Homo sapiens: one gene and its partners. The protein of the gene in region 4 purifies or fractionates together with the protein of the main gene of each other region. This does not show direct contact. Each region holds a gene or a part of one and is shown on either strand. Other genes may lie near its edges. The genes, in order: CUX1, MYO1C, AASDHPPT, ILKAP, CASQ1, PTPRB and TAF4B.

The links.
Region 1: the proteins of ILKAP (region 4) and CUX1 purify together in Homo sapiens (affinity purification with mass spectrometry, with the first as the bait; one large-scale study listed by BioGRID). This does not show direct contact.
Region 2: the proteins of ILKAP (region 4) and MYO1C purify together in Homo sapiens (affinity purification with mass spectrometry; one large-scale study listed by BioGRID and IntAct). This does not show direct contact.
Region 3: the proteins of ILKAP (region 4) and AASDHPPT fractionate together in Homo sapiens (co-fractionation; one large-scale study listed by BioGRID). This does not show direct contact.
Region 5: the proteins of ILKAP (region 4) and CASQ1 purify together in Homo sapiens (affinity purification with mass spectrometry; one large-scale study listed by BioGRID and IntAct). This does not show direct contact.
Region 6: the proteins of ILKAP (region 4) and PTPRB purify together in Homo sapiens (pull-down; one large-scale study listed by IntAct). This does not show direct contact.
Region 7: the proteins of ILKAP (region 4) and TAF4B purify together in Homo sapiens (affinity purification with mass spectrometry; one large-scale study listed by BioGRID and IntAct). This does not show direct contact.

Annotation. Positions count from the first base shown.
Region 1 is NC_000007.14:101,816,055-101,820,622, forward strand, and holds the start of CUX1 (Homeobox protein cut-like 1), read left to right. Parts: upstream 1-1,571; 5' UTR 1,572-1,585; coding exon 1,586-1,615; intron 1,616-4,568. UniProt on the Homo sapiens protein: May be involved in intra-Golgi retrograde transport.
Region 2 is NC_000017.11:1,478,823-1,482,686, reverse strand, and holds part of MYO1C (unconventional myosin-Ic), read left to right. Parts: intron 1-128; coding exon 129-209; intron 210-1,801; coding exon 1,802-1,981; intron 1,982-2,061; coding exon 2,062-2,160; intron 2,161-2,981; coding exon 2,982-3,095; intron 3,096-3,184; coding exon 3,185-3,256; intron 3,257-3,864.
Region 3 is NC_000011.10:106,091,048-106,094,911, forward strand, and holds part of AASDHPPT (L-aminoadipate-semialdehyde dehydrogenase-phosphopantetheinyl transferase), read left to right. Parts: intron 1-268; coding exon 269-430; intron 431-3,535; coding exon 3,536-3,607; intron 3,608-3,864. UniProt on the Homo sapiens protein: Catalyzes the post-translational modification of target proteins by phosphopantetheine.
Region 4 is NC_000002.12:238,193,535-238,197,398, forward strand, and holds part of ILKAP (integrin-linked kinase-associated serine/threonine phosphatase 2C), read right to left. Parts: intron 1,337-3,864; coding exon 1,271-1,336; exon of another isoform or gene 1,248-1,270; intron 798-1,247; coding exon 741-797; intron 1-740. UniProt on the Homo sapiens protein: Protein phosphatase that may play a role in regulation of cell cycle progression via dephosphorylation of its substrates whose appropriate phosphorylation states might be crucial for cell proliferation.
Region 5 is NC_000001.11:160,188,883-160,193,431, reverse strand, and holds the start of CASQ1 (calsequestrin-1 precursor), read right to left. Parts: upstream 2,858-4,549; 5' UTR 2,681-2,857; coding exon 2,402-2,680; intron 631-2,401; coding exon 546-630; intron 1-545. UniProt on the Homo sapiens protein: Calsequestrin is a high-capacity, moderate affinity, calcium-binding protein and thus acts as an internal calcium store in muscle. Calcium ions are bound by clusters of acidic residues at the protein surface, often at the interface between subunits.
Region 6 is NC_000012.12:70,557,149-70,561,012, reverse strand, and holds part of PTPRB (receptor-type tyrosine-protein phosphatase beta), read left to right. Parts: intron 1-16; exon of another isoform or gene 17-78; coding exon 79-342; exon of another isoform or gene 343-408; intron 409-1,388; coding exon 1,389-1,670; intron 1,671-2,934; exon of another isoform or gene 2,935-3,033; intron 3,034-3,864. UniProt on the Homo sapiens protein: Plays an important role in blood vessel remodeling and angiogenesis. Not necessary for the initial formation of blood vessels, but is essential for their maintenance and remodeling. Can induce dephosphorylation of TEK/TIE2, CDH5/VE-cadherin and KDR/VEGFR-2.
Region 7 is NC_000018.10:26,285,312-26,289,175, forward strand, and holds part of TAF4B (transcription initiation factor TFIID subunit 4B), read left to right. Parts: intron 1-570; coding exon 571-1,188; intron 1,189-3,864. UniProt on the Homo sapiens protein: Cell type-specific subunit of the general transcription factor TFIID that may function as a gene-selective coactivator in certain cells.

The DNA of each region.
Region 1 (4,568 bases), on a different chromosome or scaffold from region 4:
TTTCAATATTGGAAGCGCTTTGATTTACAGCAGCTGCAGGTCAGGCTCCTCCGCGCTCGGCCTCGCGCCCGGGGGTGGGGGCTGCGGGCGGTCGCGGCCTCCGCCGGGGGCCCCGGGCTGGCCCAGCCGCCGGGGGGCCCGCGGCGGCGGGGAGGAGGGGGGTGCCGGGCACCGCGGGGCCGAGTCGGGGCCGAGTCCCTCCCGCTCCCCGGCCCCCATTGATCACTCGCTTGATCGGAAATTGATCCTCTTTGTTCAATTCATCGATCAGCCCAAGATGGCGCCGGGAGCCGCCGCCGCCACCACTGCCCCCGGTGTCTGCCCCCACCCCGGGCGCCCCCCCGGGCCCCGCGCCGCCGCCGCCGCCAGCGCCGCCGCCGCCGTTGCCGCCGCGGGACCGGGGAGGGGGCGGCCCCGGCGGCCCGCGGGGTGCGCGCGCGAGCGGGGAGCGGGGAGCGGGCGGCGGGGGGCGGGCGGCGGCGGGCGCCGGGAGGGGGCCGCGGCCCGGCGGTGGCGCCCGCCCGCCCGCTCGCCCCGCGCCCCCGGCCCGCCGTATTCCCGGGGAAAGTTTGTGGGGAGTTGCTGCGGGGGGTGAAGCGCCTGCCTCTCCAGGAGGAGCCGCCGCCACTGCCGCCGGCGCGGCGGAGCTGGGGCTGGTGGCGCTGTGGTGCCGCCGGCTCGGGGGAGGGTCAGAGCGGCCACCGGCGGCGGCGGCGGCGGCGCGGCCCGGCTCCGGCCAGGCGGGCGGGTGGCCGGGCAGGCGCCCGCGCTCGCTACCCCCGGCCGGCCCCGGCCGCCGCCCCCGGCTGTCACCGGCCCGGGCCGCGCCGCCGCTCCGGCACCCCGCGTGTGGCTCCCGGCGCGGACCCCCGGGTTTGTTTACGTCCCGGGGAGCGCCCCGGGGCCACCCGCGCACCTCGCGGCCGCCGCGCTCTTTTGTGTGCCTGTGTCGGTGACGCGGACCTGTTCCTCCGTGGCGGACCCCCGCGGGGGCTCTTTGGGGAAACTTGGCGAGGGGCGGCGGGGGTGCCCCGCGCGCAGTGTCGCTGGGTCCCGGTGTCCCGGACCGCCGGGTGCGGGCGCGGGAGGAGGAGGCTGCAACTTTCCCCTAGGCAGGCCCCAAGCTGTTCCCCCGGGTGCCCGGGCAGTGTACGCTGCCTCCCCGCCGCCGGTCCGAGCCGCGATCGCCGCGCGCCTGGGGGCTCCGGCGGCCCCCGGTGACCTGCGGCGCCGGGTCCCTTCCTTGCGTCCCCTCGGGGCTTCTGCCCTCTCTGCAGGGCCCGCCATGGAGCGCGCGGCGGGTGCGCTCGGAGATGCCTTCTCGGGCCGGGTTCTCGAAAGCAGAGCCCCGGGGGCCCGTTGGGACCGTGGCATGCCGGGCGGTGGTCCGCGCGCGGAGTCCCCGGCGCCGCGGGGGGACCGTGCCGGGGCTCCCCGGCCCGCGCCCGAGTCGCCGCCGTGCCCAAGGGGCGAGTGCCTGCCTGCCACCCCCCGCCCGGAGGAGCGGCGCACCCTTAGGGTCCGCCCCGCACGTGCCAGCTCGGCGCCCGCGGCGCCGGGACAGCCCCGGGACTCTGCCAGGTGGATGTTGTGCGTAGCCGGAGCCAGGTTGAAGGTGAGCGGCGTGTGGGCCAGAAGTCCCGAGGTTGCAGGCGCGGAGGGAACCGGGGATGTCGGGGGGTGCCCGGGTCCCGCGGCTTAGAATGCTCTAGGGCGGCCTGGTGCTCTGGGAGGGGATAGGAGGGTTCCTCAGGGCCCCTGGGGAACTGCAGCTACTCCCAACTGCTAAGGTGTGCGTGAAGATAAACTTGGCTGAACTTTCCTAACCTGGAGGACTGGTGACAGTGACCTACCGCAATACCTTTGGGAGCAAAGCTCGAGATGCAGGCTTGTATCAAACGAAGCGGGTTGGATTAAAACATATTTAAATGGAATCTGACAACTTTAATTGTATATGCTTGTTTTCTGCTCTTGCCTACTAAGAACGATAAAGCCGAGTCATAGTCGTTATGAAATTTCCTGAAATTTCTCGCTTAACTAGGAAGAAGACTATGCGAAATATGTATTTCCGATAAGATTAAAACTTAAAGGAGTTTAAGTATTTATTGACTAAAATAGATTACTCCAAAGTGTCTATTGTGTAAATTAGATTCCTGGATGTAATGAACACAGCCGAATGGCATTTTTGATAAATTGGTCTACCCTGTTTTAGTAAAAATAGCTCCCTTTTACCATAATTTAATTCCTGTGCTTACTGTAAAACCCGTTGTGGAGTTTTAAGGACAAACATTATTATTATTTTTCTCTCTTGTCTTCCTAAATGTGACATCCTAGCTTAATATCAATGAAGTGTCTTTTTTAAAGCATCCTGGCAAAATTGCCTGGAAAATGGATTTGGTTTCTAGAGTTACTAGATTTTAAGAACTCTAAACCTTCCTGTCCCCCATATTAGCTACTTCTTCAGGGGATCAGGGCTCCAGGGTTCCATCGAAAGTTTCCATGTCAGTTTACTTGCACTTTATGTGGATATTAAGAAGAAATCAAAACCAAACCCCAAAACAAAGTCCCTTATTTGAACTTCATTCCTCTTTACTCCTTTGCTTTTGGTGGTTGCTAACGATTTGGCCTTAGATGATTTCCTATGGGTTTGCAAACTTTAGTCGAATACGGAATGTCAAAGTTCAAGTCTCAGGCCAATCTGGTTCTTTCTCTGGGCGGTGAGGAGGCCTTTGGAGTTGGTGTCTGGTTAATTCCCACCGATAGTCAGTGAGTCAATAGAACGAGTTTGGGAGAGAATTCATTAGTTCCAGATTTTTCTCATTTTTCCAGACCTCTTTATACTGAGATTGGGTTGCCACCTGGGGGTAAAGAGGCTGATCGGTCTTTGCAGAGAGAAATCCAGGTTGGAGACGTCAGCGGGTCCAGGTGAGGTTGGGCCGTTCCGCAGTTCTGCAACCCTGGCTCACTGGGTTCTTGTCCCTCGGCTTCCTGGGTCTTGAAGCTGCTGCCTTGGCACAGGAGTGTGTGCTCAGGAAGAGAATTTCTGAAGATTGTGTTTTATTCCGTTTCCTTTTTAGTCCCAAAGGCTTGTGGTATGGAAGTTTCAGTGCTTTGGTATTGCTAAGACTAGTTGGACAAGTTTTTTATCCTATCTCAGACTTGTAAAAACCAGGTTTTCTTTTCTTTTTAAATAAGAAAAGCACTGTTGTATAAATTTGTCTTTTAAATACATATTTGAAAGGAGGACACTTTCTAAGACAAAGCTCATGGCACTCTGTATGTTAGTGGAGCTTTGAACTCTTTGGGACGGGGCCCGCCAATGACTGCCTTCCCTTTGGGACATTATTCCCACATGGTGACCAGCCTTCCCCTTTAAGCAGCTTCTGCAAAAGTAAACTTGAAAAGTTGCCTTCTTTTTCAGAATCAAAAAACAATTTCAGTTTTGCTGAAAGTCCATTTTCTGATGGCTTTTTTTCCCCCTGTTGTGGAAGTGTGTATGTTACTGGCTGTCCAGTACTGTTTGCCATAATAAGTATATTATTTTAATTAAAATGTCCCATCTAGTACCCTTTATAAAAGAGCAGTTCAAGAAATTACACCACTGCTGCTCCTGCTTTTGTTTTCTTGGTTCTTTTAATATGGGTGTCTTTGAGGTTGGATGTGGGAAGGGGTCATTGGCAGTTGATTTAAGTTTTTTCCTATGTGAAACTCTTTTTTTCCTTAAAGGTGCAAGTGGTGAGTTAATGCAACAACTCCTGGTACAGTTGAGTCCACAGAGAGCCCTTTGACTACATCCTCGGCTTCGTGTATCTTCTGTCGGTAGTTAGCCAACCTAAGAAAGCTGAAAGGGCCAAATAGTCCAATACCTTCAGGAATGATTCTCTCCTAAATCCACTGAGCTAACCTTAAAAATGCAGTCTGGTGAACTGTGCTGAGCCTGAAACCTTTAATGGCTATTTAAAAAGTCTCCTGTTTTTGTACAATTAAGACAAACCCATCAGGGTTTATATGGGAGCTGTGAAGGAACAGTAGTTTGTGCTCTCTGATTCCCTTCTGGGTCTACCTGTAGCAGTAAACAATCAAAACCACTCCTGAGGCTGTACTCACTTTCTGTGTCTTAGGAGAGAACACAAGACTAGAAGTAGAAAATCCACATTTGTTTCAGCTCCTCTGTAATGCCCCAGGAACGTCTGTTTTTAGTGAAATGAAGGAAGGACACGTTTGTTAGGGGAAAACTCATACATTTCGTAAGCAGAGAAATTCATCATATGAAGAATCCTACAGAGGTAGGTTAAATTCCTACCCGTGCTTCCATTTCAAATAGTTTACACATTTGTCACATGTAAATTTCACAGACAGGTATATCTGACGAATTGTAACACAAATGGTATGTAAAAGGCAACTCTAACCATTATTCAAATATACAGGATCCAGGATCGTGAGTTATTGTAGAAATTACTTAAGACCTATTTAAAATTATTGAATACATAACTTTAAAAAATGTAATTGCTCTATGAAAAGTGACTTTTATTATAATTGTCAAAGACAGAAATTTGTCTGTCTTGTCC
Region 2 (3,864 bases), on a different chromosome or scaffold from region 4:
GGGAGGGGAGGGGAGGGGCAGGGAGAGAAGCCCAGTGCGGGAGGGGAGGGGCAGCAGTAGCTACAAGGCGGGGTGGGGAGGGCAGGGGGAGAGTGCCAGGTGTCCCTCATACCCCTGTCCACTCCTAGGCCTTTGGAAATGCCAAGACCCTCCGGAACGATAACTCCAGCAGGTTCGGGAAGTACATGGATGTGCAGTTTGACTTCAAGGTACCATGGATGTGTGTGTCGTGAGGATTCCCATTCAGTAGGCTCTACACGTGTGAAGCACCTACTGGGTACCAGGGACTATTCCAGGTGCTGCAATTCCAGCAGTCAAACAAAGCAAACAAAAATCCTGCCTTCCAGGGTGATAAACAATAAACAGGGAAATTGAGGCCGTGGCAGAAAATAAAATGCAGTAAGGAGTGGGGGGCAGGTGCGGTCGTATTAGGGTAGGCCTCACTGAGAAAGTGGCATTTTAATAAAGGCTTGACAGCTGGGTAGGGTGGCACATGTCTGTTGTCCCAGCTCCTCTGGAGGCTGAGGCAGGAGGATCACTTGAGGCCAGGAGTCCAAGGTTACCCTAAGCTATGATCATGCCACTGTACTCCAGCTTGGGCTACGGAGTGAGACCCTGTCTCTAAAAAAAATAGAAAATAATGGCTTGATGGAGATAGGAGCAGGCTGTGCAGGTGCCTGTCCAGGCAGCGGGAACGGAACAGCCAGGACAAAGGCCTGAGATACGAGGGTGCTGGAAGTGTTCCAGGACAGCACGGAGGCCACAGCGGCCAGAGAAGAGAGCAGGGGCCCGCGAACAGAGAGAGGCCAAACGGTGCAGGCCCTTTTGGGTTGTTGCAAGAACTTTTTTTTTTTTTTTTTAACTCTGAGTAGAAGGGGAGTCATCGGGCTGGGTGAGGTGGCTCATGCCTGTAATCTGAGCACTTTGGGAGGTTGGGGCAGGTGGATCACGTGAGGTCGGGAGTTCAAGACCAGCCTGGCCAACATGGTGAAACCCTGCCTCTACTGAAAATACAAAAATTAGCCAGGCACGGTGGTGTGTGCCTGTTGTCCCAGCTACTCAGGAGGCTGAGGCAGGAGAATTGCTTGAACCCGGGAGTTCGAGGGTGCAGTGAACTGTGATTGCACTACTGCACTCCAGCCTGGGTGAAAGCAAGACCCTGTCTCCAAAAATAAAAAATAAAAAAATGACTTTAGCTGCTTCACTGGGAGATTGGGAGTAGACGAATAGATGGGAGGGGAACCAGGCTAAGCAGGGAAAACGGTTAGGGGGCTGATGTCATCATGTAGGTGACAGGTGACATTGGCTCAGACCAGTGTGGTGCAGTGGAAGTGGCGAGCAGTGATTGGATTCTGGATGTTTTAAAGGTTAAGGCAGCAGGATGAGCTGCCTGATTGGATGTAGGGTTTGGAGAAACACAGGCTTCCAGGAGGACTGCCAAGTCCTTGGCTTGAACAACGAGAAGGATGTAGTCACCACTGACCAAGGAGGGCAGACACTAACAGGAGCTTGTTTGAAGAGGGAGAAGGTCCGGTGTTGAGCTTCAGGCCTGTTGAATTTGCGATACCTGTCAGGCATCCAGGTGGAGCAGCCAGGTCGTTGGAGTTGAATCTCCCCATTTCCTAGATGAAGTAACTGAGTCCAGCGTGGGTGGCGTGCCTGAGCCGACGCAGCTAGTGGCAGGGCTGGAATTGGCATCCAGGTCTGGCTGCCAAAGCCCAGGAGTGCAGGGGAGAAGAGGGGCAGGTGGGCTCTTTTCCCAGTCCCCGTGACCCGGCCTCATGCCCTGCCCTGCCCACAGGGTGCCCCCGTGGGTGGCCACATCCTCAGTTACCTCCTGGAAAAGTCACGAGTGGTGCACCAGAATCATGGGGAGCGGAACTTCCACATCTTCTACCAGCTGCTGGAGGGGGGCGAGGAGGAGACTCTTCGCAGGCTGGGCTTGGAACGGAACCCCCAGAGCTACCTGTACCTGGTGAAGGTGAGTGGCTGGCAGGGAGGGCAGGTGCCACCCAGGGATCTGGTGCCAGGGCTGGCAACCCAGCTGTGCCCTTCCTCCAGGGCCAGTGTGCCAAAGTCTCCTCCATCAACGACAAGAGTGACTGGAAGGTCGTCAGGAAGGCTCTGACAGTCATTGATTTCACCGAGGATGAAGTGGAGGTGAGGCCTCTTCCGGGACCCTCGCTTTCCTCCTGTCACACCCCCAAAATCTCCTTTTTTTTTTGTTTTTTATTTTTTGAGACGGAGTTTCATTCTTGTTGCCCAGGCTGGAGTGCAGTGGTGCAATCTCAGCTCACTGCAACCTCCGCCTCCTGGGTTCAAGCAATTCTCCTGCCTCAGCCTCCCGAGTAGCTGGGATTACAGGCGCCCGCCACCACGCCCAGCTAATTTTTTGTAGTTTTAGTAGAGACGGAGTTTCACCATGTTGGCCAGCCTGGTCTCGAACTCCCGACCTCAGGTGATCCGCCTGCCTCAGCCTCTCAAAGTGCTGGGATTACAGGCGTGGGCCAGTAATCCCTTTTTTTTTTTTTTTTTTTTTTTTGAGATGGAGTCTCGCTCTTTCGCCCAGGCTGGAGTGCAGTGGTGCGATCTCAGTTCACTGCAACCTCTGCCTCCAGGTTAAAGTGATTCTCATGCCTCAGCCTCCTGAGTAGTTGGGATTACAGACACCTGCCACCACACCTGGCTAATTTTTGTATTTTTAATAATGATGGGGTTTTGCCATGTTGGCTGGGCTGGTCTCGAACTCCTGACCTCAGATGATCCTCCCGCCTCAGCCTCCCAAAGTGCTGGGATTACAGGCGTCAGCCACCGTGCCCATCCCACCCGCAGAATCACCTTCCACCTTTAACACCCATTCCCACTTCCAGCCCCTTCTCTCCGACACTTCACCACCCACCCCTGCATGGCCATCTGCTAGTTGCCCTCTTGGGGCTCTCTGGCCCCTCTCACCCCCTCCTGCCCCCGGCCTGCTCCCCCAGGACCTGCTGAGCATCGTGGCCAGCGTCCTTCATTTGGGCAACATCCACTTTGCTGCCAACGAGGAGAGCAATGCCCAGGTCACCACCGAGAACCAGCTCAAGTATCTGACCAGGGTGAGTGGGGCGGGCAGAGGGCGACGGGAGGACGGCGGGGGCGGGGGCTGGGGGTGCACCCTCACCGTGTCCTCGCCTGCCCTTGGCAGCTCCTCAGCGTGGAAGGCTCGACGCTGCGAGAAGCCCTGACACACAGGAAGATCATCGCCAAGGGGGAGGAGGTGAGGCCGGGCCCTTGCCCTCGGGTGTGGAGGGGCAGCTGTTCCAAGGCAGCCCCTACTCCCATCACTCCCCTTCGCCTGGTTCCCTCAGCAATGCTGGAGGGATGGAAGGAAGGCTGCTCAGAGAAGCAGAGTGAGAGCCGAGCGCCGTGGCTCACGCCTGTAACCCCAGCACTTGGGGAGGCTGAGGTGGGCAGGTCACCTGAGGTCAGGAGTTCGAGACCATCTTGGCCAACATGGTGAAACCCCATCTACTAAGAATACAAAAATTAGCCGGGCATGGTGGCGGGCGCCTGTAATCCCAGCTACTCGGGAGGCTGAGGCAGGAGAATCGCTTGAACCCGGGAGGTGGAGGTTGCAGTGAGCCGAGATCACGGCAACAGAGCTAGACTCTGTCTCAAAAAAAAGAAGCAGCACAGTGAGCTGGCCAGGGTCACATAGGAAGAGAGTAACAGTCCGGCTAGAACCAGACTCCCACCTCGGGAAGGAGGCCTCCTGTCCCTCTACCACCTTCCCTCTGGGGTGGCCACCTGTCCTCCCTGAGGTCCCACTACCAGCACCCCTCCCCATACTGCAGGCTTGCTGGAGCTGGGAGTGCAGAGTGGTGG
Region 3 (3,864 bases), on a different chromosome or scaffold from region 4:
ATGTACATAACATCCCTATGAGGAAGGTATTGTTATCATCATCGCAGGTTACATACGAGGGGATACAGGCACGGAGAGCTTAAATGATTTGCCCTAAGATCATATGGATGGTTTGTTTTCATGCTGTAAGGGTTTTTTTTTAAAAAGGTTATAGCTATATAGCCATAATGTAGTATAGCATTGAAACTCCCTATCTTTTGGACCTGTAGATTCTATGAAAAATTTTTGTCCACCAAATTCTAAGAGAAAATGTCTTTCTGTATCTTAGGCACTTAAGGAAAGCTTCATAAAAGCCATTGGTGTTGGACTAGGATTTGAATTGCAGCGGCTTGAATTTGATCTATCTCCATTAAACTTGGATATAGGCCAAGTTTATAAAGAAACACGTTTATTCCTGGATGGAGAGGAAGAAAAAGAATGGGCATTTGAGGTAAGAAATTTGTTAGAATTGTTAAAACTAAGAATTTCTATTTTTTATGCATGTATGTGTGATTAATTTGGGTAAGCTAGTCACTGAATTTGGACGCAACTGAATCCAGTCCTGCTGCTCTGAAAGTGAAATCAGGGCTACTATGAGAGCATGTAACATTTATACTAATACTTGAAAGAAGTTGAAAGATGAGTCATTGTGAGTTCAGTACGGGAAAGGAAAAGAGGCTCTGACAAGGAGCTTTGCATGTATGAACAGCCAAACGCAGCCACTTTGGCTGGGCCATAATGAGGGTATTTAAGAGAGATTCCAGATCAGGCTGGTAGATCCTACAAGGTATTGATCAAGTTAAATATTTTGGTTTCTTACTGTATTTTGTTTCTGTCACTGGCAGTTCCTGGTTGCTAGTGAGAGAAGCCAACACACACAGCCAAAAAACCCCCCAAAACAGTATTATAGGTTACTAGAGTGATTCAGTAACTGTCCCCAGTATTAGCTAGAATTAGGGGATGAAATATTTAGAGCTCTTTTTGTCTCCTAGTTTTGCCTTTCTCTACATTTTGGCTTCAGTTTTCTCCCACCCATGTTTCTCATTCTGTACACCAGCTTTCTCAGCCTCTCTGGTCTGCATGACAGAAAACATGGCTCTTGCATGTAACATACTGTTGCATGTAACAGTTTATAAACAATTTACAGTTTAAAAACCTAAACAAACTGGTAAACTCACTTTCTGTTCCAAGCCCAAAAATCCTAGAGAAGGGATGCCCTGGCCTAGCTTGGGCTAGTTGTTTATCTCCAGACCAGTCATTATACTGTGATTGGTCCTGCTTGTGTCCAGCAAACGGGCTATAGAGCAGTTCTCTGACTTACAAGATCATCTGTTGAGATACTGAATACTAGAAAATAAATGAGATGTTAAGTTTGAGATACCAAACATCTAAGTGAAGATGTCAGATAGGTGAATGGAATGGAGGGCTGGGCTAGAGGAAAAAAATTATAATCATAATGGTTATAAGTATAACCATTATGTCAATGGTAGTTGAAACCATGGATTTGAAGTTGAAACTGTGAGATTACCTAAGGAACAGCTATATATTGAATCTATGAAGAGAGAAGTGGAAATTGAAACCACAAGAAGTTAGAAGTAAGGCCTAGAATAGAGCCCTGAGAATATATATGGTCCCCAGTTTATGATGGTTTAACTTTTTTTGACTTTATGACAGTATGAAAGTGATAATGCATTCAGTAGAATTCATATTTGCAGAACCCACGCAACCATTCCTTTTTTCATTTTCAATACAATATTCAATAAATTACATGAGCTATTCAGCATTTTATTATAAATGAGGCTTTGTGTTAGATGATTTCGCCCACTGTAGGCTGATATAAGTATTCTGAGCACATTTAAGGTAGGCTATGCTATGCTATGATGTTTGGTAGGTTAGGTGTATTAAGTGCATTTTCCATGTAACCATATTTTCTTACAGTGAGTTTATTGGGATATAACATCATCGTGAGTCGTGGAGCATCTATACTAATATTCAAAGGTGAATTTGTGGAGGGGACTGATAAAGAATGACCAAAATGGTATAAGAGAGTAGTGTTGGTATCCAAGGACAGAAAGCATTTTGAAGAAGAGAGCTGGGTCAATAACTGCTAAGGACTAGATGTGGTGGTTCATGCTTGTTATCCCAACACTTTGGGAGGCCAAGACACTGCCTCTACAAAAAATTTAAAAAATGAAAGTTTCAAAACAGTATATCCATTAGTTAACATTCTTTAGTGTCCAACTATCAATTGTTAGTGTACATACACCTCTCATTATACATTAAGCATGATTCTTATTTATTGAAATATTCAATACATATAAGAACTATATCTTATATGCTAAATTTCTGAAAAATTATTTTAGATATTTTTAAATTTGTACATTCCAGTTACTTTTTTCTTGTTTGTTTAAAGAGAAAACAGAACAGGGCTACATAGCAGACTTACTTTGCGATAACTTTGACATAGTAAATCTTCTGATACTTAGTCTTATATTTTTCCTCTTTAAACATATCTTAAATTTATCCTTACTGAATTTCACTTTATGCTGACTTGGGTACCTGAAGGTATGAAGATAGGAAGAAGAAGATAAAAAATGAAAAAGCTCCCTAAGTACTATTTCTAATTGTAGTTTCTTCTGACGTTTTATGGAAGAATGCTTTAGTAAAGTGGTTTTTCAGTGAAAAGTTTGTTCAGCTTTTAAGTGTTTACAATTTTTTCTGGTAACTGCTTCAATATATATTACATTTTAAAGTCCCCTTCCCCTTTGTCTCATATGTAGAGGAAAGTAGAAAATTGCATATTGGTTATGTTTTACCTATAAATTTCCACCATGATTTTTCATACGTGATAGTATGTAGTTTACTAAATGCTTACATACCAATGTTGCAACTTGATTTTTTTTTTTTAACCTTGTACTTTATTATACATACTAACATCACCAGTGAAGGACAGATAGCTGTCAAGTACCTCTAGATAGGGCACATCACCTGTGTAGTATTCTGGTTGAGAATGCATAACCTAATCCACTCATTAAATATCAAACAAACCCCAAATGAGCAATATTTTATTAATAAAAAGCAGATTTAGGGAATTTGTACTTTAAAACGTTAATGTCATAAAAAACAAAAGAAAGGCTAACAAGACATGACAACTGAATGCAATACTTGTCCCTACTTGCCCATTACTGGGCTCCTGTTCTGGAGGAGGGATATGCCACAAAGGATGCTATTGGATTAATTCACAGAATTTGGAATACAGCTAATAAAGTATTGTTTCAATGTTAAACTTACTGACGTTATTAACTGCTGTGGTTATGTAAGAGAATGTGCCTACTAGGAAATACATGTTGAAGTATTTAAGAGTAAAGGGCCAGCACATATGTAACTTCTAAAGTAGTTTAGCGGAGGTGGGGAAATATATATATGCACGCGTGTGAGTGTACGTATATGTATATATATATAGAGAGAGAGAGAATGAGATTTAGAAAATGTAAACAAAGTTACATCTAGGTTTACATATTTTATAATCTATATTTATTTACCTTTTATCTTTCAGGAAAGCAAAATAGATGAGCACCATTTTGTTGCAGTTGCTCTTAGGAAACCCGATGGATCTAGACATCAGGATGTAAGATTTTAGGATTTCTCTTTTTTCTAAATAGCATGAATCAATGTTAAGTTTGCTCTTTATTGATGGAAATAGTCATTTGCCTTATATCAGTTTAGAGAGATTTTTTTAAGATTATAGATATAGTAGTACTCTTTATTAGCAAATATTAAGATCACTAGGGATTTTGTAGAAACATTTTTAAAAAGCAGCTGGGCATGGTGGCTCACACCTGTAATCCCAGCACCTTGGGAGGCTGAGGCAGGCGGATCACCTGA
Region 4 (3,864 bases):
TTCATTACAACTAAGGGTACTATCTTTATTGGGAAGGTTTCAGGCCACACTGTGAGTGTGAGGATGCTGCAATTTTTTGGTATGGGTCTACAGCCCTGAAGATTGAGAATTCTTATATAAGATGACTGGAGTACTTTTCCTAAAATATAGAAAATATACCTGCATACGAAATGGGATTACCTGCATTCCCCACTGCCCCCACACCATCTATCTCCCAACCTCTCCTAACCCTCACCTTCCCCAACCAGAGGAGCTCTACCTAAGAAGTTCTCATGAGACAGAATCATACCTTTGCCGCAATGGCAACAGGAATCTGCTCTATTCTTCCCTTCTACTTAATTAGGACATGAAAAGGAACATTTTCAGGAGGAGGTAGAGCCAATGCTACTAGCCTCGATACATTTGAGTCAAGCACTCTGTTTAACAAGGCAAATCGGAATAATGAACTCTGAATTTTTAAAAAATGTTAATAACAAAGTTAAGAGTAAATTAGTGAACTCTTAATTCTTAAAGGCAGTTCCAACAATCTGAACCTCAAGAAGTTAATATCACCAGAAAGTGATACAGTATTATCTTTGTGCTTCCAATTAATGTGCCTGTTTATAGTTTTAGTAAACCTTATGCTGTATTATGACTTAATGTCATCCAAAATCCCGTTAAAACCTATACATAAATTTCACATAAGAGTAAAATACTATGTATTATTTCCATCAGCACCTTGGATTTTTCCTACCACTTACCTGAATCGCCACTGCTAGCGGGTGGGAGATCATCAAAAAGCAAAGGTCCCCCTGATCCTGAAACACAGCAGAACACTTAGTGAGCCCACAAAAAATATGTAAGACTTAAGTTTCAGAATCCATCCCACCAGGACACCTATGTAGGTTACTGAAATAAACTCAAAACTTTGCGTCAATCCAGTGGCAACTCATACTGCAATGAATAATATCTTGAACCTATTTTAAAGTCCTATTATTTCAAAGGAAATAAAAATCTGCCTTAAAAAGTTAAATTGTACTTCAGGTAGTAAAATAAATACTCAAATGAACCAGAGAAAACTGCTCCACATTTCCTCGCAGTACTTCTCAGGGCTAGCGACTAGCAGATTTTTCTGCCTTACCTGATGCCATGGATTCAAAACTTAAAGACAGTCCAACACCTAAAACATCTGTGTGTTGAAAATGGGGGAAAGGGAAAAAGATTGAGACAACTACAATCCCAGGATGAGTAGAGACGTTGACACACACCTGGGAGAGCCTGAAGACTGTACCTGAGTCAGTACTGCTGGCCGGAGGGAGGTCATCAAAGAGCAGGGGTCCTTTCTGAGCTTCTTTCCCTAAAACACAGAAAACCTGTTTAGAGAGCATATGGTCATCACCCAGGACAGATTTTCAAAGAGGAAGATCATGTGGTCTCCCCTGCTTTGACACAAGTTTGCTATTAGATTCTAATTTTCTCCTTCCTGTTGGGCAAATTTTTAAAACATATTTTCTTAACAGCTTTTTTAATATGGACATCTGTTTCCAACAGTTACAGTCAACATAAAAGCAATGATTGATGCCCTAACAGGCATCTTCAGGGCCACTGAATATTTTGAGGAAAACAAGTATTTTCTTGATAATTTCATTATTGAAAGCATGAAACATTTAAAAGTCTTTCTTTAAAATAGAATCCTGGGAAGAAAAAAACTGATTCTAGACCAGGAAAACAATACTTGAGACTTCCTGATAGACGTTCAGAAATTTGGGGTGGGGTGGAGGAGGGGCCTTCAAAGACCTACAGGTTTATAAAAATCCTATTTCGGTAACATTCTGCAAGGGAAGAAAATCTGTTGGAACCTGGTGTCCCTAGCCCCAGCACAGTGTCTGATTCAATAAATAGCTATGGAGAAAATAAAGGAGTTTCAGGTAACCAAAGACAGATAGCCTCAGGAGAAAGTCACGAAACTCTTTTAACAAAAAATGTGAAGATTTACACTCCAAAAGTATGTCTTAAATGTTTTATGCCCAATTATCTTTTTCCACATAAAATTTAACGACCATTCCTTATTTTCCAGCTTTTTCCTGAAATTCTGTTTAAGCTATTAGATATCTGAACTGGCACACAAGAATCCAAGTTGAAAGTATACACGTTCACCTCCTGCAAAGTTCAACACACCAACCAAACACACCAGCTCTATCCCACCTCTTGCTCCTCAGAGTTCAAGTATAAAAACGTGCTCATTTACGCCAGGCGCAGTGGCTCATGCCTATAAACCCAGCACTTCGGTAGGCTGAGGTGGGAGGATTGCTTGAGTCCCGGAGTTCGAGACCAGCCTGGACAACATGGCAAAAAAATGTCTATGAAAAAAATACAAAAATTAGCCAGGTGTGGTGGCAGGCGCCTGTAGTCCAAGCTACTCAGTAGGCTGAGGTGGGAGGATCACCTGAGCCCAGGGAGGCCAAGGCTTCAGTGAGCCATGATTGGGCCACTGCACTCCAGCCTAGGCAACACAGTGAGACTCTGTCACAAAAAAAAAAAAAAAAAAAGTACTCACTTAAAAACCAATTCACTTTTTTTTTTTTTTTTTTTTTTTTTGAGACTGAGTCTCACTCTGTTGCCCAGGCTGGAGTGCAGTAATGTGATCTTCGCTCACTGCCTCCACCTCCCGGGTTCAAGCTATTCTCCTGCCCCAGCCTCCTGAGTAGGTGAGATCACAGGCGCACACCACCATGCCCAAATAATTTTTGTATTTTTAGTAGAGACATGGTCTCACCATATTGACCAGGCTAGTCTTGAACTCCTGACCTCAAGTGTTCTGCCTGCCTCAGCCTCCCAAAGCGCTGGGATTACAGGGGTGAGCCACCATGTCTGGTCTAATTTTTGTATTTTTAGTAGAGACGGGGTTTCACCATGTTGGCCAGGTTGGTCTCAAACTCCTGGCCTCAAGTGGTCCACCCGCCTCAGCCTCCCAAAGTGCTGGGATTACAGGTATGAGCTATTGTGCCAGGCCAAACACCAATTCAACTAAACAAATAAATTTATATCCCCCAAGAGGGTCATCCCTATCATCTTTTTGCCTCCATTTAGAAATGAGCTGGGTATCAACTTTCTTCTTTTAAAAACAAAAGCTTTAATTAAAAATTTATAAACTTAAGGGAATGAAATTTCTCCCGGGGTCTTTGCGTCAGAAGTACCTAAAATACACAAGAAATTCCTGAGTTAACAAAAAATAACTATTTTGCTTTATATCCCTAATACAAATGGGAAAATGTATTCTAATCCTTCAGGATGACCCTAAACAAATTAAGGAATTGCAAATACTTTCACTTTTCTTACAAGTGACATAAAGACTCTATTAGAAGTATACAAGAAGCAGAAGAAAGCCATTAAAAAGTATTTAGTATGGCCAGGTGTGGTGGCTCACACCTATAATCCCAGCACTTTGGGAGGTCAAGGTCAGGACTGAGGTCAGCAGTTCAAGATGAGCCTGACCAACATGGTGAAACCCTGTCTCTCCAGAAATACAAAAATTAGCTAGGCATGGTGGCGGGTGCCTGTAGCCCCAGCTACTTGGGAGGCTGAAGCAGGAAAACTGCTTGAACCTGGGAGGCGGAGGTTGCGGTGAGCTGAGATAGCGCCACTGCACTCCAGCCTGGGGGACAAAACCAGACTCTGTCCCCAGCACCCAAAAAAAGTATTTAGGATAACCATTACTCAATGTATTAATCCACTTACAAGAATTCCTAATATCCCGAAGTAGGTCACTTTTGCCCAAACATTGGGTCTAACAATCACAACGCCCGTTCTCCGGACAGACTCAAAAACCACATGAGATGTTCCAGACAATCACGCTGCATTCAGTGGTGTCACAGAGCCAGATGT
Region 5 (4,549 bases), on a different chromosome or scaffold from region 4:
GCAACGACTAGAGATGAGTATTCATGCCACCCCCTCTGAGCACTCTAGTAGCTGGTTCCCAGTCAAGCTCTTTAATTGCTATTACTGACCAGATGACTTCATTATTACTGACCACCCCTCCCCCATGCATGTCCAGAATCCCGTCTCAAGCCTGTGCTGCCCCCTAGTGGCTGACTGCTCTAACAACCATGGCTCTGGATGGGAGGGGTTGGAAGCGGAGTTTGCAGAGGTCTGGCCAGCCCCGCCTGTATTCCCCGACTCCCCTTCCCTCCAGCACCTAGCCATGTTTTAAGGTAAGTATAAAGAAGGCCTCCCCCACCTCTTTCTGGGATTTGAGCATGGAACTTCATAAGGAATAGAGAGGCAGAGTCTCCGAGCCATAACCCTCCCAACCTCATATTTTCTCACCCCCTCTTTTAGAATAGACATAAATCTGAGAGATTCCCAAGCCCCTCGGATCCCAAGGACTGCCTGACAGGTCCTCCGCCCTAAGCCTCCCCTTGTCTCAATGCCACCTTCCCCTCCCCTGCCCTCCCCTCTCTTACCTAGTTTCTTGGCCACAGCTGCATCCTTCTCAGAGTCTACCAGCCCGAAGCCAACACCCTTGTCTTCTAGGACTTGGGCTGCTAACTGGAGGGAAGGATTATGATTAAAATTAGCCCCTGGAATTTTTATTATCCCCTATTCTCCCTCTCATGCTTTCAAGTTGGGTCAGTTGAGGTGCGGGAGATATAAGAGTTGACCTTGACCCTTTGCTAAGATCCAGAATATCCCCCAAATTCCCTACAGCCACACAGTTCTGTTTTTGGCTCAACTTAGTTCATGAATATTGATTGCTCATTTGCAATGTGCTTATTATGTTGGACTTGAAGACACTGCACTCAATACTTCCCAGTGCCTAAGAGGTACTGAGGAGTCTGGCTTCAGAGTGACTGAGGGCCCCTTCCCTCCTTCAGGGTTGAGTCCTGCATTCCATCCTGCTCAAGTCACACCTGGAGGTCCCTGTCCCTGGTCAAGGGCCAAGCTCAGTGTGGGGTTGATCTTGGAAGTCCCTGAGATTCTTCAGAGTGACTCCCAATGGGAAGAATTTTGGAGGGTGGGAGGGTAGTGGTGGGTCTGGTCATGTTGTTGAGGAGTTGGGGAAGGCCAGAGAGCTGAGATAAGAGGTCACCATTTGTTACCCCCCAGAGGGAGAGAGACTGACAGCGACCGGACAGTTCTCCCCATCAGGGCCCAACTTTCCCCTTTCGCACTCTACTTCAGCCTGTCCTTAGGCTGTGGACAGTCACACCTGGAGGTCCCTGCCCCCATAAGCCTTCCAGCTTAGCGTTCAACCCTGATTTTCTCTGCTGTGGGCACAGCTTGCAGCTCTACCCCCACTCAGCACAGACTCAGGTACTGTGATTCTCAGAGGGGTGGGGAAGGGAGGCGGTTGGCAGGTGGATGGCCAGGGATACTGAGCACTCAGGATAAAAATACTCGGCTCATTAATCAGATGGCAGGTTCTAGCACCCAGCAGGGGTGCACAAAATGAGAGCCTGTGGTTCTGGTGTCTCACCCTGAAATGCTCCAAGCTCTGGACAAGCTGAGGCCAGAGAAGGGGCCACAGGAGCTTGGACAAGAAAACTCACATCCCATTTCCTAAAGGTGTGTGTGTATGAACACATTCCCAAACATAGGTTTTTTTTCTTTTCTTATGATAACTTCTTTCTCCTTTGGGCCTGAAGTCATTTTGGAGGTGAGGAGACTTTTCCCACAAAAAGAAGATTGGGGAAGACATTCTGACACCTCCTGCAACCATAAGAATTTTCCAGTGAGGGCATCCAGCTTATCCAATGGAGACAAATGGGGAATTAGGGAGGGGGAAGGAAGAGAGAGGGGACTGGGAGTCCAATGGGAGGCATGATCTCTAGGAGATATTTAAACATGGCATGCAAGTATCATAACATTTACATTTACACTCAGTTTGGATCTCTTTGGGGTGCAGCCCCTGAAGTATGTGGAGAGGACGTGTTCTGGCTAAGCAGATGGGTGGGGTAGGGGAGTGCAATATACACTGCTGTTCTCCCCTGGCCCTCCAAGTACCTCCCTTTTTCACCCTCAGTGTCCTAGCCAAACCTAAGTCAAATACTACCAGCCTCCTATAGCAGGGAGGGGAGCTCTTCCTGCAGCACCCCTGCTAAAGGTTTCCTGACGCTGATAGTACTTTTGGGTTCCTGAGACTCTGTTTCTCATTTGACTAAAGCCACATGCCACTTGCATCCTGTTGGTCAGGACAGGGTTCCTACCACACTGCCCCTCACCCCCAGATCCCATCCTCAAAGAGCTACATGGGTGTAGGATAGGGGATTCCGGAGAGGGGCTAGACATGCTCTGCAGGCCTGCAGTGCCCCCAACTCACCTCCAGGATCAGCTCCTCCATCTCAAATTGTCTTTGTGAGGCCTTGTCATCCTCGGGGGGTTCATGGTAGAGGAGTGCCAGCACCTCATACTTCTTGAACACATTCTTGTAGTTCTTTGCATTGACATTGATCACACGGTCCACACCATCGTACTCAGGGAAGTCCAGCCCTTCCTGCCCCTGTACCCCTGACTTGGGTGTCCCTAGCACCAGCAGCAACAGCAGTGCCAGCCGCAGACCCGGCACAGCTCTGGGCCCCATCCTGTCTGTAGCACTCATGGAGGTAGTGGGATCTGGGTTGGCTCTCCTGGTCCAGAAGAGGTTAGCTGGGGTAGGGAGGGGCCCCTGGGTCCCAGATTCTGAGTTAGGGGCTCAAGTGGGAGGGGGGATTGGGGAATGGCCCAGAGCAGTGGACAGAGGGCACTGCTGGGTCCTGGAGAAACTGCCGACAGAGCCAAGGGAAAAAGGGTCAGGTGGAGGAATAGGAGCAGGGGGCGGGGAGGGAACCGGAGCTGCCCCCTGAAATTGGCACCCCTCAGTCCCCACCTGGTCCTGTCTAAATATGTCTCCATGGTTGGCAGGAGAGACGGATAACCTTCTGAGGCCAGGACAGCTCCATGCGGGCCGGAATCCTCCCACCTCCTACACTTCTACCCCAGGCTCCCAGGGGCTCCTTCCCTCCCCCTCCTCCAGTGTCCAGGGCACCTCAGCCCCGGTCCCCACACTGGCCTAAGAGCTCATCGCCATATTAAGAAAGGAAAAGGAGAGATGCCGGAGCTAAAAATAAGACCAGATGAGTCGGAGGTAAATGAAGCTGGGGCTGGGGGAGGGGAGGTATAAGGGTAATTAGGGTGGGCCGAGGGTGGGGCAAGGGTAATTAGAAGTTAAATGCAGTGGAGAGGAGGAGCTAACTGGGTCAGAGGCTAAATTGATAATATAGGACAAAAGGGGGACAAATGTGGTATTGGCTCTATGTCCTAAAGCCTGGGAATCTTCTGTAGGTGAAGTCTGATTCTGATTCTTTGATACTATGTAGGAGAGTGGGGCGATAAAAGTGCAAGCCAGGCTGCAGGAAAGAGACCCCCTCCACTTTCTTTTAAAGAACCAGGACCAAGGATGAGGTCATTCTCTGAATAAAAGATGGAGCCGCGTCCAAGACTGGCAACCTGGCTCAGCTCCAGCCAGTTTCCTTTGCTTCACTCAGCACTCCTAACTTGGGAATGCAGGGAAGGACAGGGCTGGCCCAGATCCTGTCCTGTAGAGATGTGGGTTTGGGGTTTCTCTGCCTATAAAGCCCACAATGAGAAGGGGTCTGTCCTTTGGTTGCCACCTGTGTGTGCACTCCCTACCCTGATCCTATGGGACTCGGTTTTCTGGGGCACAGTGGGAAGGGAGGTTTTCCCAGGCTGCATGCTTCCAAGGAGAGTGAATAGCTACTATTTATTCCCATGTCTTTGACAAGACAAAGAGGATCAGGTATTGACACCAGGGCAAAAAAAAATTAACATTAGGCAAGCATGAAGAGGTGAACCCTGTGCCCTGAACCAAGACTGATGATTAATTCTGTGCACCCGAGATCCAAAGCAGAGATGGGCGGGTAGGGGCTTAAACTTCTGGATCCAGCTTGGGGGGTGAGGACAGAGTAGTGAGTTTAACTCTGGATACGTAGGAAGGAAGGATCCTCTTCATGGCCCTCCAGGGTTCTTACTATGCACAGGTAAACTGAGGCATGAGGGAGACCATAGAGGGTCAGATCAAAGTCACATGCTGCCACTGCACCCTGAGGTATCTCTGATTCTAGAGGGACAGTGGTGTTTTTTTTGTTTTGTTTTGCATCCAGGGAGGGTCATGTAATTATGTTAGCAGAATAACTTTTCCACATGTCTGTGTGGTGGACCTTACACAGCTGAACACGGAAGGCCACAGAAAATCTCAAAAGCATGGCAGGAGTGAGGCCAAGAGGGACAGCTGTCACTGTAGCAGGAGAGGTTGGAGCTAGCCTAAGCACAGCACGTTGGAGCTGAAGAGACCTCAGAAGCCCATATCCTGGTCTCCCTGAAGAGTGGCTAACGTGGGAAAGCCCCAAGGCCAGAGCAAAGGCAGCCAGGTGAGATGGGGAGGCCTGCCCAGAAGCAGATGATCTAGGTG
Region 6 (3,864 bases), on a different chromosome or scaffold from region 4:
TAGCATATACTCTCACCTGTGGGCCAAAATGCCTGTGTTTCTGTTTTGTTCTCAGTAACAATTTTTCTTCTGTTTAAGTCCCAGCCTCTGTGAGTCATCTCAGGGGGTCCAATCGGAACACGACAGACAGCCTTTGGTTCAACTGGAGTCCAGCCTCTGGGGACTTTGACTTTTATGAGCTGATTCTCTATAATCCCAATGGCACAAAGAAGGAAAACTGGAAAGACAAGGACCTGACGGAGTGGCGGTTTCAAGGCCTTGTTCCTGGAAGGAAGTACGTGCTGTGGGTGGTAACTCACAGTGGAGATCTCAGCAATAAAGTCACAGCGGAGAGCAGAACAGGTGAGAAGCCCAGGTGCCAATGGCCAAGGGATGGTGGGAAGTAGCTTCCAGAGACACATTTTGATTCTGATTTTAATGACAAGAGATAAAGCCAATAATGATATACCCTGAGCTAGCCCCTGAATTTGGGAAGGGACTGTGGGACAACAGATAAAGGACAAGGCTTTGGTCCAAAAGAAATATGTCCTTAGCTTAGCTCTATGAATCTGGGCAAGTCATTGAGCATCTCTAGGCCTCAGTTTTCTTATCTGCAAAGTGGGAATAATCATATACATCATCACTGTGTGGCTATCACCAGTGCTTCCTAACTGTTTTTATGTCATGGGCACACACAGAGGTCTGTGTGCCACCCTGGAGTTAATCAACAAGGCTATCTGCAACTGAACATAATTGTCTGTGGACGTCAGCCCTGTACCCCAAAATCTGATGGAATTAATATCTTCACACACTTGTAACCCATTCAGGGCACACTCATGCTCCACAGCACCATGGTAAGGAAGATCTGGCTATGAATATTTAAGAAAAGGTATATGAGGCTGGGCACCGTGGCTCATGCCTATAATCCCAGTACTTTGGGAGGCCGAGGTGGGTGGATCACTTGAGGTCTGGAGTTCGAGACCAGCCTGGTCAACGAGAGGAAACCCTGTCTCTACTAAAAATACAACAATTAGCCAGGTGTAGTGGTGGGCACCTGTAATCCCAGCTACTTGGGAGGCTGAGGTGCCTGTAATCCCAGCTACCTGGGAAGCGGAGGTTGCAGTGAGCCAAGATCACTCCACTGCACTTCAGCCTGGGCAGCAAGAGCAAAACTCTGTCTCAAAAAAAAAAAAGTGAAAAAAAAAAAAAAAAAGTACATAAAATGCTCGAAGACAGTGCCTTACACATAATAAACACTATTAATGAAAGCTCCTGCTACTATATTATTATCATATTATCTCTTCCTACAAAGTACATTAAAAGTGTGTCTGATGTTGCTCAGCTATCTTATTTGTATATGTTATGGCATAGCTGTGATTATGTGATTTTTCACTTTCTCCTACATTCAGCTCCAAGTCCTCCCAGTCTTATGTCATTTGCTGACATTGCAAACACATCCTTGGCCATCACGTGGAAAGGGCCCCCAGACTGGACAGACTACAACGACTTTGAGCTGCAGTGGTTGCCCAGAGATGCACTTACTGTCTTCAACCCCTACAACAACAGAAAATCAGAAGGACGCATTGTGTATGGTCTTCGTCCAGGGAGATCCTATCAATTCAACGTCAAGACTGTCAGTGGTGATTCCTGGAAAACTTACAGCAAACCAATTTTTGGATCTGTGAGGACAAGTATGACATGTTTTGCTACTCTTATTTCTCAAATGGAGTAGAGGAAGTATATGTTCAACATCTTACTCAAATAGGGCTTGGATTAAATCCATATTTTTACATGGGATTGGTCTGGATTTGAATTCAGGCAGAAGTCTCTGTAGATTTGTTCGTTCATTCAACATTAACAACAAGGGACAATAAATCTCTCTCTGCCCTCATGGGGCTTACAATTAGGTAGGACGTACTATTTGTAAATAGACATTATATTTTGGGTGTGATGAGGGAAGTAAATGGTACTATGGAGACACTTGTTAGGTAATCTGACCCAATACAAGAGAACTTCTTGGAAAAGGAAACATCCAAATAGAAACCTAAAGCAAGAGATTTACCAGGTAGAGGTAGGGGAAGAAGTGGAGAATATTCCAGGTAGAGAGAATAAAATATTCCAAGATGAGAGAGGAGGGAGAGTACAAGATCTACCAATAGGGGAACAGAAAGAAGTTTATTTGGCCATAGCATAAAAGGTGAGGATTAAGGGAATCAGATAATAAAATATTTTGTATTCCATGGTAACTACTTTGAACTTTATTTTGAACCAACTGGAGCCACTCAATTTCAGCAGAGATATCATAATCATTATTTACACTTTAGAAAGTTACTCTGGGTACAGTGTAGAGAATAGATTGAAAGAGGCAAAACTAGAAGCAGAGGGATCATAGTTAGCATATACTGCTGTATGTCCCTGAGATAAAAATACTTCGACGACGAAGCATATACCAGTTTCTTCCCAAAGGCATTTTGGGATAGATACTATCACCCTCAAAGAAAGACAGGTATTCAGTGTAGGGACTTTAATCCAAATATTTGTGTTTCAATAATACCCAGTATAAGTAGCTTCTGGGATCAGATCAGATAGTTATTGGTTGTTGATAAAATACATAGTTGAAAGTTAGAAATTTAAGCAAGTAGTTGTTTTATTTTTTTAATAAGCATTAATACTATAACAAGTATAACTTTTATGCCACATTGTATCCAAAGAGCAGTTATTTGTGTGTCAAGAGAAATATGTGAAAAAGAACTAAGAGTTTTAGTTTATGGCGAGCTCAGGATGAGTTTTCCGTGGCTGACTGTGGGCTGTGTTCATGAAATCTGCTAAGCAGAACACCCTGCACTGGTTACCAAACCCAGGGCAGAACTCTAAACACTTCTGACCATTGCATCTGGTATTAGAGTAGCCAGGGAAACACAATGCAAACACTGGATGGAACAAAGCTTTACTTACATAGAGAGGAGACAGAGTAAGATCAGCCTCAACAGTATGCATCAGTCCCCCACAGCCAGCTGCAGTAGTTGCCCAGAGATGCACTTGCTATCTTCAACCCTGACAACAGAAAACAGAAGGGCGCATTGTCTGTGGTCTCTTCCAGCAGCCAATGGAGGGCAGTTGGCTAAGTGCACCCCTCTCGGGCCACAGTAGAAGGACCCTGTCCTGTCTCCTCAGAGGACAACTATAGCATTGGTGTTCGCCATCTACCATGTGACACACATGCTTAAGCAGAACAAAAGAGCATACATTGAGCTTGCAACAGGGAATGATACTCCCACACAAGGCAATGAGCCCAGCACAGGGTGTGTAGGCTCTCCATCTCTTGGTAAGAAAGTATCTTAAGCTCAAGGGCCATTTCTTACACAGCCAAATGGGGGTTGATAGACTATGCACATGAGACTGCCTTTCCCAACAGCCTCGCAGGTGCTCAGTTTAAGAGCTCATACAACTCTGTTAGAGGCTAGGCTTATAAGTCACAACTGGACTGTTGTATTCAGTCCCGGGTGCTAGAATTTAAGGGAGGCATTTACCAAAAGGGGGAGTGCCCAAGAGGACAAAAACTGCCATGAAAGAGAGACTCAGTGCTGTTTCATGAGGAATGATTATGGTGGAACTTGTTTTTGTTTTGTTATGTTTTGTTTTGTTTTCTTCGAGGCTTGTATTTATTAGGATCGGGTGAGGCTATGGGTAACAGAAAATCCAAAATAGCAGAAGTTTAAATAGAATAGAAGTTTATAATTTTCATGTAAAATCATTCCAGTACTCAATTTCTCACAAATATGCTTCAACCATAATGAATGATTTGCAGTTCTCAATTTTCTACCATCCCACTCCGGCACCTCCTCCTTTGGTACCTGGGTTTCTGGTTTTTCTCTACGTAGAATG
Region 7 (3,864 bases), on a different chromosome or scaffold from region 4:
CGAGTAGCTGGGACTACACGTGTGTGCCACCACGCCTGACTAATTTTTGTATTTTTTGTATAGATGGGGTTTTGCCATGTTGCCTAGGCTGGTCTCAAACTCCTGGCCTCAAGTGATTGCTTACTTTGGCCTCCCAGAGTGCTGGGATTACAGGCATGAGCCACTGCACCTATTTCTATCCAAAGTTTGAAAGTTACTTAATGAAGAGACCTAGATTCTGCTGTGGTTTAAATAAACTTATAGATACTGAAGTTACTAATGATCTATTATAGGGTTTAGATGATTATAGAAAAGTATAATACAGTGTTTACCAAATTGATATTGAGGGAATACAAATAAGTTTAATACTGAGATATAGTAATTTCATATTGGAAAACAGGCACTTGGGCTTTAAATTGATTGTATCCTGGATATTGGCAGGATATAAGTAAGTGATACAAGCTGTCTTCAACTGAAATACTTGATACACTTTTGATTGGTTTTAAGTTGTAAAGGTATGAAATACCACATTTTGTTTCACAAGTAGCTGATTTGTTAGCAGTGTTTTTTTCCATTCCTCTGCATTTCCAGAAAAGCGTGGTTGCCTTACGACAACTTCTGCCTAACTCCCAGAGCTTCATCCAGCAATGTGTTCAGCAGACTTCTAGTGACATGGTCATTGCTACCTGTACTACAACAGTAACAACTTCTCCTGTGGTGACAACTACAGTGTCCTCAAGCCAGTCTGAAAAGTCAATTATTGTTTCTGGAGCAACAGCACCCAGAACTGTGTCAGTGCAAACTTTGAACCCACTTGCTGGTCCAGTGGGAGCAAAAGCTGGAGTTGTGACACTTCATTCTGTGGGCCCAACTGCTGCAACAGGAGGAACAACAGCTGGAACTGGTTTGCTTCAGACTTCAAAACCACTTGTGACATCTGTGGCAAACACAGTGACCACGGTCTCACTGCAACCTGAAAAGCCAGTTGTCTCTGGAACAGCAGTAACACTGTCCCTTCCAGCAGTAACTTTTGGAGAAACTTCAGGTGCAGCTATTTGTCTTCCATCTGTGAAACCTGTTGTTTCTTCTGCTGGGACCACATCTGACAAGCCTGTTATTGGGACTCCAGTTCAAATCAAACTTGCCCAGCCGGGCCCTGTCCTTTCACAACCAGCTGGGATTCCACAGGCAGTTCAAGTCAAGCAACTAGTGAGTAACATTTTGTTTCTTCCCCAGTTACTTATTTTGAAAATTTTGAACATTCAGAAAACTGGTAAGACTAGTAGAAAACTAGTAAGGCTATATACTGTTTACGGGTTTGACCAATTAATTTTTTTTTTTTTTTACCTCATTTGCTTTGTTTTCCTCTTTCTACTCACACCCACAAACACACATATAAGTCCTTTTTTTAAAGACAGAGTCTTACTCTGTCGCCCAGGCTGGAGTGCAGTGGCACGATCTCGGCTCACTGTAACCTCCACCTCCCAGGTTCAAGCATTTCTCATGCCTTACCCTCCTGAGTAGCTGGAATTACAGGTGTGCACCACCACGCCTTTCTAATTTTTGTATTTTTGTTAGAGATGGAGTTTCTCCATGTTGGCCAGGCTAGTCTTGAACTCCTGGCCTTAAATGATCCACCCGCCTTGGCCTCCCAAAGCACTGGGATTACAGACAGGCAATGAGCCACCACGCCCAGCAGCAAACACACACGTAAGTCTTTACTGAACCACCTGAGAGTGGTTGCAAAAATTATGACAGTGCATGGTGTATATCTCCTAAAAGGTTTTTTTTGTAAAACATAACCACAACATACCTGTTGTCACACACAGGAAATTAATATTGGTACAGTATTTCTGTAGTTGTCCCAATAATGTGTTTTTATTTTTATTTTTTTGTAGAGAGAGGGTCTTGCTGTGTTGCCCAAGCTGGTCTCAAACTCTTGGCCTCAACTGTTCCTCTCGACTTAGACCTCCCAAAATGTTAGGATTACAGGCATGAGCCACTGTACCTGGCTCATTTAATCTAGAATACTTCTCTAGCTTTTTGTGGTTGTTTATTATATTGTAATGTTTTAAGTGCCCAGAATATTTGCAGAATAGTCCTTTGTTTTGTCTGATTGTTGTGTTTTTTTGCTAAACTTGGTAGGTTGGGAGGTTCTTGGGTGAAAGAAGGAAATTTTAGCTGTTTGTCGATTAGTGTTTAGAATGTTCTTCTTTATTTAAGAAAAGGTAAGTTTTACCAGAAGGCTATGAAAGTATTGTTAACTCATGGGAGATACTACATGATGCATTAATTAAAAATCATAACGTTTTTAGTAAAGTTCTTCCCTATCTTCTACGATAACAGAGCTTGCTGTTCTTTTGGTGAATGTCCTTGTTCTCTTTTGTAATGCTTTGCATTAGACGCTGTGTTTTAAATCTCTGTTTTGGTTCATTCTGCTTCTTGGGTAGCCTTTCCAGCCCTGTTTGTTTTATCAGAATAAGAGGTATCTGAGTGATTGTCGTCTGAGGCAACAGGGCAGCTTTGGACATAGAATGAAAGGGGTTGATCCGTGACCAGAATTGGAGAGTAGTCAGACTCTTGAGCAGATAAATGATGGTCATTTCCTGGGCACTAATCTTTTCTCATCCCTTCCCACTCTGCATCTCATTTTCAAGTGGGGAAATGTAACTGCCTTGCAGGATTTCTCTTGGGTACGTGAATTTAATCTCAGAGATGAAACAACATTTTTAGAAGCAGTGATTCTTAAACATTGTTCTGGGCAGCCAGGTTTGAGAACCACTGGAATAGAGGAATTGCCCCAAGGAAAGGCCTCTTTTTGGTAGCACTGAACAGAATTGAAATCCTCTTTATATGTCATAGTTGTTTCTTGAATCAATGCTAATCTTTATTGAGCATCTATAGCATATAGGTCCCTGGGGTGAAATAATACTTTATAGCTACATAGTTTTAAAAGCATGTCATTATATGCTATGGATTTTAAAATAATTTTATGATAAAAAGGTAGGGAGAAAACTAAGAATCCAGAAATTCTGAGCTGACTCATCCAGTAACAGTTAAGTGGCCGGGCGCAGCGGCTCATGCCTGTAATCTCAGCACTTTGGGAGGCCGAGGCGGGCGGATCACCTGAGGTCAGGAGTTTGAGACCAGCCTGCCCAACATGGCAAAGCCCCGTCTCTACTAAAAATACAAAAATTAGCCAGGTGTGGTGGTGGGCACCTGTAATCCCAGCTACTTGGGAGGCTGAGGCAGGAGAATGGCTTGAACCCGGGAGGCAGAGGTTGCAGTGAGCCAAGATCGCACCACAGCACTACAGCCTGGGTGACGAGCGAAACTCGTCATCTCAAAAAAACAAAAACAAAACAAAACAAAAAACAGTCAAGTAATGGATCTCAGACTAGAACCCAGATGACTTTTCCATTAGGGTATGGTGCTCTTAGAAAGAACTTCTAGGTTTCTGGAATGTCCTGAAGCAGGAAGCTGTCTCATGATAATATCTTGACAGCATTTTTGTTTTGTAGGTTTGACTTGTTATACATTATAAATCATTTCAATAAAGAAATAATGCAACAAAATTTGATGGTAAATTTTAGGGTTTTTTTACTTCCTACCTTCATTTTTAATAATTTCATTTTCCCTGTGAATTCTGCTTTCTTGTTTGTCCTTTGTTTCAAGTTTAGCCAGTAAATTTGATGTTAGTATTTACACCTACCTGTTTAAAGTGGCAAGAGCCAGAGTGGCCAGACCCTGAAGACAGATTGTAATTTATTTCACAACAGATTTACCTGGAGCAAAACAACATAAACCATTCTATATGGTAATGCCATAGAGAAGATTGAACTAGGGCATTCTTTCAAATAAACTAAGTTAGAAAATTAATATTAC